3 linked regions of the Homo sapiens genome follow. The protein of the gene in region 1 interacts with the protein of each later gene in a pairwise test. Each region holds a gene or a part of one and is shown in the gene's direction. Other genes may lie near its edges. The genes, in order: KHDRBS3, CCDC187 and MARK4.

Region 1 (3,650 bases):
CCGTGCCAGCTGCTTTCTGTGCATTCTCTCCCATCCCCGCAAGATCTTGCAAGGTAGGAGGTTTTATTCCCTGCGTGCCTCCTTTATTTTTTTCAAATGAGGCCTCTAAGGCTCAAAAACACTAAGTAACTTGCCCAGTCAAGGTACACAGCTTATAAGTAGTCAGGCTGAAATTTTAAACCAAGTCTGCAGTATTTTGTTAAGATACTTTAAGAAAAGAGGTAAAAGGACAGAACTCAACATTGTTGTTTTTAAATAAATGTTTCATTATAGCAGAAGCCTCTTAGGAATTTCCATTGGTGATGAATTTTTAAAAGGGGTTACTGAAAATGTGTTTTACCAAAAAGGCAAGCTCACTTTTTTTTCTCCTGTGCTCTCCGGCAGTCTTCAGTAGGCATTCAAAGTAAGGATTTTTAAATATGTATATATTTCAGTGACCAAAAAGAAAATAGAAAAATATTCCATATAGAAAGCCAGTGAAATTCTTGCTGAAGTTCTGTCTCTTGAGGGAGCCTCCTAGAGGTGCAGTGCTCTTTGTATTTTAATACTTTGCTTATCACAAAAACAGTCGAGAGTATGATATCAGGGATTTATAGTCAGTTTATGGTATATTTGTGAATTCTTCATTCTCTAAAAATAGGTTCACAAAAGAAAAAAAAGTATTCCCACAGATAATGCTTTTGGCTTTCTGGAAGGGGGGAATATGTTTAAATATACTTGCCCTGCAGTTGCTAATGATAGTAGCTACCATTTATCAAGAGCCTTTTCTGGTTTACGTGCTTTATGTATGTTATTTCATTGAATTAGTTTAACAGTCTTAAAAGAGTAAGTCATTTTACCTTATTTTATAGATGAGAAAACCGAGGTCAGGAAGGTCACATAATTTGCCTAAGAACACATAGCTAGTAACTGGTGAATCAGGATTCAGATCTTTGTCTGCCCAACACTATGACACTATGTAGGGCACCTGTTAGCATCAGATAGAGGTGGAAGCTTTGAGTATGTCTTGTTTTTCATGTTTTACTTTTGTGGGGAATTTGGATTATGCAGCTCTTCAAATTACATGCCTAGTATTGGACTGGGTGAGCAGGGCAGTTGCGTACCATACAGAGGGCACACAGGGGCATGGCAAAACGGCATAGGAACTTTCTGACCAGTGGCAACATCTGGTAGGTAGCATTTACTTGGGAAACAGTGTTAACTCAACAAGGAATGAGCTGGTGCAGAAAGAGCCATGTGATTACAGGTGACAGCTTTCTAGTCTGTAATCCCCTGCAAGTTACTTTATTTCTCAGAGCCTCAGTTTCCCCATCTGTGAAATTGGGGACCTTATGCCTTCTTTGTAGGGTTGCTGTTTTAGACGTAAGTACAGTGTCTAACACATAGTAGGTGCTTAATAAACGTTACCTGCAATTTTTATAAAATGTTGTAAGACAGATGTGTGAGTATCGACATCACTTTTCAGATATAATGTATATAATACAAATTCAATACATAAATCATCTACTTTCATTTCTTAGGGTAATTTTATGTTGTTAGAATTATTTTAGTTTTCCAATCCAGGAAATATTGAAGGAGAAATTCAGTCTTTAGGAAGCTTCTTTCATTAATATCATGCACAAAATTAGCAGCAGCTCTGATTGATTTTTATTATGCTATTCAAGACACAGCACCTGAAGCTTAAATTAACAAATGAAGCTTCCATAAACAGTTTTAAGACTGCATATCTTAAAACATGTCTGGACACCCAGCAGCCTCTTTCCACAAGCACAAGATACCTTACTCTGAATTGGTAAGCTGTAAATTTCCATAATTTTTTACATTTCCATAATTTTTCGTCAATCAGCCCCTGCTGCTATTTTAAGAATTTTAAAAGGTGCTCCTAGCATATTATTGATGTTCTTCGTTGATATGATAAAGGGCAAGAGTATGTGAGGGCACCCTTTTAAATGTCTGTTTTCGATATATATCTTACACTTGGGGTCACTGTTGATTCGTGCTCCCATGGGAGAAAATATAGAAATTATGATGAAGATAAGGGGCAGTTTTCATTTTCAACATTTTTCCTTGTTCTTTCTCTGCTTCAATGTTTGTGCCGTTTGTGCTCTGCTTTTCTTCCACTAGATGGCGCTCCACATAGCTAGGTTACCTTCTTTCTTTCGCATTGGTAGCTATTTCTGAACTGAGTCTTGATCAATAAACGTGCATTGCTTTTGATTTTCATGCATTGGTATTTTTCATATTATTGATCTCTTAAGAGGCATACTTGCTAATCAATATTTGCAGAAAGCCATGCCTTTTTTTGTAGCCACCATTGCTCAAGCGCCTGAGGTATGCCTGGCACTGTAGCTAGGTTCTTCACACATTTCTTCATTTAATCCATGACTTTCACGTGAATTTAGTTTTGTTGTTCTCATTTTACAGGTAAGAAGTGGAGGTTAGAGGGATTTATAACTTGTTCGAGGTCACAAAGCTAACTTATATTATAGGGATTAGTGTGCCCTAAAGAAAAGTATACTCCAAAAACATTAAATTGAAAGCTTTTGTCAAATAACTTGTTAGGATAGTCTGACTTACGGTTACTGGCCATGGTAATATGTTTATTTTGGGGGAAAATTATACTCCTCACAGTTAATTTGCTTTGGAATATATAAATCAAATTCCCAAATCTGATTTGTATAAGAAAGCACACAACAGTAACAAAAGATTTGTCAGTTGGTGTGCAAATTTCTGCTTCCTCTTGCCTTCTGTTTACTGACTTGAGTGGGCTGAGACTTGATGAGTACTAGCTATAAAATGTGGGAGGAATTTTGGACAAAGCCAGGCTTCCTGTTTTAGTAACTTTTAGCAGGGCTGAATGCTGTTAACAAGTCCCCAGGACTTAAAAAATTTATCCTTTCATTTTATTCATTTATTCGACACATATTTGTTGAATTGCTGAGTTGACCTGTGTGTTCTGGACCATGACTTTACCTCACTGAGCCTCTATTCCCTCATCTGCACATGGCAGGCAGGATGCCACCTCAGTGGTTGTCATACATTTTAAAATAACTAAAAGAGTATAATTGGATTGTTTGTAACAGAAAGGATAAATGCTTGAGGTGAGGGATACCCATTTCCCTGATGTGGTTATTATGCATTGCATGCCTGTATCAGAATATCTCATGTACCCCATAAACATGTACACCTACTGTGTACCCCCACAATTAAAAATAAAAATTAAACAAGATTAAATGACAGTGGTTTCGTATTTGTTTAATTTCACTATAAATTTTTAACATAGAATATATTCGTTGTATCTAAGATGAGATTATTACACATATATTTCTGTTCCTCATATATTATCTTTTACAAATGAATACTTAAATAACTTGACATGTATTTATTAAAAATAAGGGCCTTCCCTTTCATAGCTGTCATACAATGATCCAAATTAGGAAGTTTAACAACCACACAGTGCTGTTATCTCATCTACAGTTCACATGCTGATGGCACCAGTTGTTCTGGTTTTGTCTTTTACAGGACCCAAGTCAAGATCACACATTTCGTGTAGTGTCAGGCCTCTTTAGGGTTTCAGTTTGCAGTAGCTGCTTTGTCCGCCTTTGCCTTTCGTGATAGGCATTTTGGAAAACTATACAAAAACTATACAG
Region 2 (3,650 bases), on another chromosome or scaffold:
CTGGGGCTGGCCAGTCGGACTGCCATGTACACAGGGTTCTGCAGGGCACCTGGGATCGGCAGGCCCGGCTGGAGCGTCAGGGCTGGTGTCCCAGGCAACTGGTGACCTTGGCCACCACTGGAGCAGCAGGTGGTTCCTGTCCGGGCAGGGGCGTGTCCCTTGAGACAAAGTGAAAGTCCACCAAACACCAGGCACTATTGTCCTCTCAACACCCAGAGACTGGGCGAGTCTAAGAAAACAGAGCTGTTCAACCACACTGTAGCATGCACTGGCAGCTCACGGTACCCGCAGCTCACACCACCTGCAGCTCACACCACCCGCAGCTCACACCACCCGCAGCTCACGGCACCCGTAGCTCAGGGCACCTACACCCCATGGCACCCGCAGCTCAGGACACCCACAGCCCATGGCACCCGCAACTCACGGCACCCACAGCCTACGCCACCCACAGCTCACGCCACCTGCAGCTCACGCCACCTGCAGCTCACGGCTCTTCAGAGCAGTAACAGATACTGGCATGTGTGCACATGCAGTGGGCAGCTCAGGGCACGCTTGGCCGAGGGAGCCGTGCTTGCTTTCTTTGTCACACGTTCACATTTAGTGAGCAAGCCCAGGGCATCTCCTTCCACCTGCACACTTGGGGGTGGGAGAGGGTCTTCCGCAGACCCCACTCCCTCCAGTAGCTTGGGGACTTTGTGCAGGCACAGGGGGTGTGTGAGTCAGCCATGTGCTTGCATTACGATTAATTTCATGCGTGTTTCCCGGAGAGTCCAGTCAGGTAATCCTGTGGGTGGATCCCAGTGGTCACAGAGGAATTTCTGATCCAGGCATCTCCCTGCTGAGGACTGGGCAGAGGTGTCAGTGCCCTGCAGAGACCCAGCGGCCCAGCCTGGGCATGGGTTTCAGAGCTTGCAGGGCGAACCTGACAGCGGCCCCTGCCCTTGAGCGGGTGGGTGGCAGGCAGAGTCCCTCTGGGGCTTCCTTCTGGGGCGTCTTCGAGGTCAGGGGAGTGGCCAGTGCCCGCACTCTGTGAGCTCACTGCAGCCTCCTGGTTCCCCGCCAAGGTTGGCAGTCTTGCTCCCATTTTGTAGATGAGGCAACCGAGGTTCACAGAGTTTCCACAGCCTGCCCGGGGCTGCACAGAGGCAGAGCCTCCCACCCGTCCAGCCCAAGGCCGGTGCTCCTAACCTGGAAGCCCAGCCGTGTGCACCTGGGGCCACGCCTGGGCAGCTTGTCGAGGCCACCCTCCAGGCGTGGATTCTGGGGCCACCGAACCACAGCGTTTTGGAGACACCAGCAAGAGCCCCCAGGTGGAGTGAACGCCTGAGATTGGCTTTGTGGGACCCTCACTCCAAGTGTGAGCAGTGCCAGCTCGCTGGCCACTCCTGTAATGCTCCATGCCTCAGTTTCTCCACACTGCGTGCAATCACAGCCCTGGGGCCGTGGGGAGGGGCACTGCGTGGCGTGCGTTCTGTCCGTGCCCAGGTGCCTAAGCATCTGTCCCGTGTCATCAGTTGCCGGCCCCTCTGCTCCTAGGCAGAGCAGCAGCTTCCAGCCGAGAGTAAACGCCTCTGTGCCCATACCCAGAGAGGACACGCGGGTGAGGTGGGAGCTCAGCGGGGCTGCGGGGCCACCGTGTGCATTCAGCGGGGCCAGAGGCCGAGCAGAAGGGGACTGCGATGTAGGGACCCGGGCACCCAGAAGGTTCCGGAAGGCCGTGGAAACATGCGTACAATATAACAATTTTCTGCATGATCACCCCCTCCCTCCCCCAGGTCTTTGGTTTGTTTTATTTTAATGGCTCTGTTGAAAAATGACCTGCTTTCTGCCTGACACTGGGTCAGAGGGCATGCCACCGGCCGCATTCATCATCGTAAACACCGTGTCACCCTGACAGTGTTGACCATTAGTTTCTGTCAGTGACGAAGTCACAGCTGGGCTAAGGAGAGATGAGTTTCGGTTCAGAGGTCAGAGCCACAGGACTTGGGAATTGGATGAATTAGAAATTTGCTGTAGTTAACAAAAAATTAAATCACAATAGTTATAAAATATTCATCCATCCGGGCCAAAGGAAAATGAAGCCTGATATTTAATTTCAGATTATATCACCTCACTTTGCATTTTTTATCATAGATTAGGTCGGCCCCAGAACTTTGACAGGGCACTTGGGGACTTCATCCATTTCCACAGATTAAAAATCCTCTCGTAAAAAAATTAATTGCCATTAAACTGCTCAGCGGAAGAAAAAATGTGCCCATCAGGACCCATTTATCGAGCGGGACCCTCTGGCGGGCTAATGGGGAAGTGAGTGGCCAGCAATGGAGGGGCCGGGCGGGCAGGCGGGCAGCCCCTCCCCAGGCGGGTCCCTGGCCCAGCAACCCAGCGAGGGAGAGCAGCTGTAGGGACTAGGATGGAGAAACCCCACCGGGGCTCCCCTCCACGCTGGGTCCCCCCCGAAACCCAGCTGTGACCAGTTGGGTCACGCTGGCCTCAACTCCGGCCTTTGACACCACCCTGAGCCAGTGGAATCCTGACCCTCTTCCAGGCCTAACTCCTGCAATGATCGTGACTGCCCTTTCATTCTTGTGGCCCTATGGGAGGTGCTGTGAGATAGGCACCCCATTTTACAGATGGGGAAACTGAGGCATGGATAAGTGAAACACTTGCCTGAGGCCCATGGCTGGTGAGTGGCAGAGCCAGACTTAAACCCAGGTCTGAGAATCCTGAGACCACGCCCTAAACCTTCCTCTACCTTGGGGTCCTGTCCTAGACAGTGTATGGCCTTAAGGGGTCCTGCCCTAAAGTGGGTGTGGGGCATGGCCTGGGGTCCTGTCCTGGAGAGGCCGTGGCCATGGGAAGCCTGTCCTTGGGGACGTGGCTTTGGGAGGGCATGGCCTGGTGGGTGCAACCATGTAGCCCATTCACCTTCCTGGAGAGGTAGCTTCAGGCCTGTGGCTGATGGCCAGGGGTCAGGGCAGTGTGAGGAGGGTGCCGTGTCTGGGGGGTGCTAGGGAAGTCCCTGACTCAGTCCGGGAGCCTGCCCCTGGGTGCTCAGCTCTCTGGATGGTCCCTGCCCAAGGCACTCTCATTTGGCAGAAAGTCCCCCTTCATGGGGGCCAGGGCCAGCCCTGGCTGAGACTCCACAGTGGTCTTGACCCCAGGCCACGGGGTGGAGCTGCCCTGGGCTGGGCCTAAGGAAGGGGCATAGGGGCCAGGGACCCTTGGCATGTGTGGTGTTGGCCCTGCAGAGCCAGGTGGAATAAGCAGTGTGTGTGAGTGAATGTGTGTGTGAGAGCACGTGAGGGCATGTGTATATGAGCGTGTGAGAGTGAGAGCACATGTGAGGGCGTGTGTATATGAGCGCGTGAGAGTGTGAGACCACGTGAGGGCGTGTGTATATGAGCGTGTGAGTGTGTGTGAGAGCACATGTGAGGGCGTGTGTATATGAGCGTGTGAGTGAATGTGTGTGTGAGAGCATGTGAGGGCGTGTGTATGAGTGTGAGAGTGTGTGAGTGTGAGCACTTGAGGGCGTGTGTATATGAGCGTGTGAGTGTGTGAGAGCACATGTGAGGGCGTGTGTATATGAGTGTGTGTGTGAGAGCATGTGAGGGCGTGTGTATATGAGTGTGAGTGTGTGTGTGAGAGCATGT
Region 3 (3,650 bases), on another chromosome or scaffold:
TGGACAAGGAGATCAAATCCTGACTCCAGGCCCTCACCAGCCCGGAGGGACTGGGGTTGAGGCAGGGGCTGCTTGGAGTCCCAGAGGCAGTGGGTTGCGGGAGGTGGGTTCCCTATGTCCAGATTAGACACTCTGTCCCCCTCCCCTCCCCTAGGGTCGCAGACGAACCTGAGAGAATCGGGGGACCTGAGGTCACAAGGTGAGTGCTTGGGCCTACCCCTGACTGCCACTTCCCCTCTCCTGCCTCAGCACCTCCCGACACTTACCCCAGGGCATTAGATGGGGCCCCAGTCTCATCCTGCAAGGCCAACTTCCTGAAATGCCCTGTGGCCCCAGCCTTCTCTGCCAGCTCCTCTCATTCCCACCCAACCCCAAGCACCTTCCCTTGATCATCTTAAACTTCAGCCTCCGGCTGGGTGCCATGGCCCAAGCCTGTAATCCCAGCACTTTGGGAGTCCAAGGGAGGCAGATCACCTGAGGTCGGGAGTTTGAGACCAGCCTAAGATGGAGAAACCCCGTCGTTACTAAAAATACAAAAATTAGCCGGGCGTAGTGGCGCATGCCTGTAATCCCAACTACTCGGGAGGCTGAGGCAGGAGAATCGCTTGAACCCGGGAGGCAGAGGTTGCGGTGAGCTGGATTGTGCCATCGCACTCCAGCCTGGGTAGCAAGAGTGAAACTCCGTCTGAAAAAAAAAAAAAAAAAAAAAAAAAAGCCTCATCCCATCCACAACTCAACTCCTCTTCTGGTCAATGCCCCCACCTCCTTTTGCCTCTCATCCAGTCATGGCACAATGTTTGCTGGCAGCTCAGGGCCAGCAGGAGGCAAACATCTGTACGGACCCAGATCATGAAGATTTTAGGCTTTGAGGGCCAGGCACCCTGTGTCACGCCTGTTCAGTTGTGCCATTGTAGTGCAAAAGCAGTCATATTCAACACAAAACAAATGGGTATGGCAGTGTTCCAATGAAACTTTATTTACAAAAGCAGACAGCACTGGAGTTTGCCAAGCCCTGGTTTTGTCTGAGTTCCCGGTTTAGAGACCCAAGTGGAAACCGGAGCCTTCCCAGCAGCTGCAACAAACTGCCAGGGCTGACTCTCATTGGTTGGGACTTGGTCACATGCTCATTCCTAAACCAATGCCTGCAGCCAGAGAGGAGAAGTACTCTGGTTGGTCAGACCTGGTCATGTGGTCACCCTTGACCCAAGCACAGTGGCCGGGAAGTAGAATGCTATCATTGGCAGAGCTGAGTCGTGCTCACCCAAGCTGAGGGGCGGCCCCACCGGAACAAGGGAGGCTAGTCCTGGGATGCTCATGTAGAGCAGCACTCTCGTACTTCAGGCGGGACGTTTCTTTGTTGTGCAGGGCCCTCTTGCACATTGGAGAATGTTTTTCATTCCTGACCTACCCCATCCCCAACCTAGTCAGTGCCAGCAGTGCTCCCATCCTAAGACATGTGACAATCAAAAAGCCCCCAGAGGCCGAGCACAGTGGCTTATGCCTGTAATTCCAACAACTCAGGAGGCCAAGGCAGGAGGATCACTTGAGCCCAGGAGGTCGAGGCTGCAGTGAGCTGTGATTGCACTACTGCATTGCAAGACCCTGTCTCAAAAAAACTAAGAAGTGGCCGGGCACTGTGGCTCTCGCCTGTAATCCCAGCACTTTGGGAGGCCAAGGCAGGTGGATCACCTGAGGCCGGGAGTTTAAGACCTGCCTGCCCAACATGGTGAGACTCCGTCTCTACTAAAAATACAAAAATTAGCTGGCCGTGGTGCCTGTTCTCCCAGCTACTTGGGAAGCTGAGGCAGGAGAATTGCTTGAACCCGGGAAGCAGAGGTTGCAGTGGGCCAAGATTGTGTCATTGCCTTCCAGCCTGGGCGACAAGAGCGAAACTCTGTCTCAAAAAAAAAAAAAAAAAAAAAAGCCGGGCGCAGTGGCTCACACCTGTAATCCCAGCACTTTGGGAGGTCGAGGCGGGCAGATCACAAGGTCAGGAGATCGAGACCATCCTGGCTGACACGGTGAAACCGTGTCTCTACTAAAAATACAAAAATTAGCTGGGGCCAGGCGTGGTGGCGCGTGCCTGTAATCCCAACTACTCAGGAGGCTATGGCAGGAGAATCGCTTCAACCCAGGAGGCGGAGGTTGTGGTGAGCCGAGATCGTTCCATTGCACTCCAGCCTGGGTAACAAGAGCAAAACTCCGTCTCAAAAAAAAAAAAAAAAAGAAAAGGAAAAAGAAATTTCTCATTCAAACATTCAAACCATGTGGCCAAGCCAGGCTGGTAAGGCCACTGTGATCTATGCGGTCATTCAGGTCCCCAGGTTATTGCATCCCGATTCCCTGGAGCCCTTGTCATCTTCACAGTTGAGGCTGGCCTGTGCCACTGCTAAGTCCAGCTCCTGGGAGATGTGGGACAGGAGAGCCTGGCACATGCAGGTTCTTTGAAGGAACTGATGTGGATGGCACATCTCACTTCTGCTCATGTCCCAGAATTTACAGACAAGGTCACACCTGGTTGCAAGGGAGGCTGGAAAGTGTGGTCTCTAGCTGGGCAGCTCTGTATCCAGTTGAAACTGTCGCTGGGGTAACAGGGGAAGATGTTTTTTGAGGGGATGGCTAGGAATGTGTCCCGAATTGGGAAGAGTTGTCCCTTCAGCCCTCCACCACATTCCTCTTCGCTCCCATCTCTGACCCCTGACATCTTCTCGCCTCAGTTGCCATCTACCTTGGGATCAAACGGAAACCGCCCCCCGGCTGCTCCGATTCCCCTGGAGTGTGAAGCTGACCAGCTCGCGCCCTCCTGAGGCCCTGATGGCAGCTCTGCGCCAGGCCACAGCAGCCGCCCGCTGCCGCTGCCGCCAGCCACAGCCGTTCCTGCTGGCCTGCCTGCACGGGGGTGCGGGCGGGCCCGAGCCCCTGTCCCACTTCGAAGTGGAGGTCTGCCAGCTGCCCCGGCCAGGCTTGCGGGGAGTTCTCTTCCGCCGTGTGGCGGGCACCGCCCTGGCCTTCCGCACCCTCGTCACCCGCATCTCCAACGACCTCGAGCTCTGAGCCACCACGGTCCCAGGGCCCTTACTCTTCCTCTCCCTTGTCGCCTTCACTTCTACAGGAGGGGAAGGGGCCAGGGAGGGGATTCTCCCTTTATCATCACCTCAGTTTCCCTGAATTATATTTGGGGGCAAAGATTGTCCCCTCTGCTGTTCTCTGGGGCCGCTCAGCACAGAAGAAGGATGAGGGGGCTCAGCGGGGGGAGCTGGCACCTTCCTGGAGCCTCCAGCCAGTCCTGTCCTCCCTCGCCCTACCAAGAGGGCACCTGAGGAGACTTTGGGGACAGGGCAGGGGCAGGGAGGGAAACTGAGGAAATCTTCCATTCCTCCCAACAGCTCAAAATTAGGCCTTGGGCAGGGGCAGGGAGAGCTGCTGAGCCTAAAGACTGGAGAATCTGGGGGACTGGGAGTGGGGGTCAGAGAGGCAGATTCCTTCCCCTCCCGTCCCCTCACGCTCAAACCCCCACTTCCTGCCCCAGGCTGGCGCGGGGCACTTTGTACAAATCCTTGTAAATACCCCACACCCTCCCCTCTGCAAAGGTCTCTTGAGGAGCTGCCGCTGTCACCTACGGTTTTTAAGTTATTACACCCCGACCCTCC

What was found.
Region 2: the proteins of KHDRBS3 (region 1) and CCDC187 interact in a two-hybrid assay, tested with the Homo sapiens proteins (one large-scale study listed by BioGRID).
Region 3: the proteins of KHDRBS3 (region 1) and MARK4 interact in a two-hybrid assay, tested with the Homo sapiens proteins (one large-scale study listed by BioGRID).

Annotation. Positions count from the first base shown.
Region 1 is NC_000008.11:135,463,924-135,467,573, forward strand, and holds part of KHDRBS3 (KH domain-containing, RNA-binding, signal transduction-associated protein 3), read left to right. Parts: coding exon of another isoform or gene 1-53; intron 54-3,650. UniProt on the Homo sapiens protein: RNA-binding protein that plays a role in the regulation of alternative splicing and influences mRNA splice site selection and exon inclusion. Binds preferentially to the 5'-[AU]UAAA-3' motif in vitro.
Region 2 is NC_000009.12:136,293,972-136,297,621, reverse strand, and holds part of CCDC187 (coiled-coil domain-containing protein 187), read left to right. Parts: intron 1-3,650.
Region 3 is NC_000019.10:45,299,657-45,303,306, forward strand, and holds part of MARK4 (MAP/microtubule affinity-regulating kinase 4), read left to right. Parts: intron 1-154; coding exon 155-199; intron 200-2,717; coding exon 2,718-3,054; 3' UTR 3,055-3,650. UniProt on the Homo sapiens protein: Serine/threonine-protein kinase. Phosphorylates the microtubule-associated protein MAPT/TAU. Also phosphorylates the microtubule-associated proteins MAP2 and MAP4.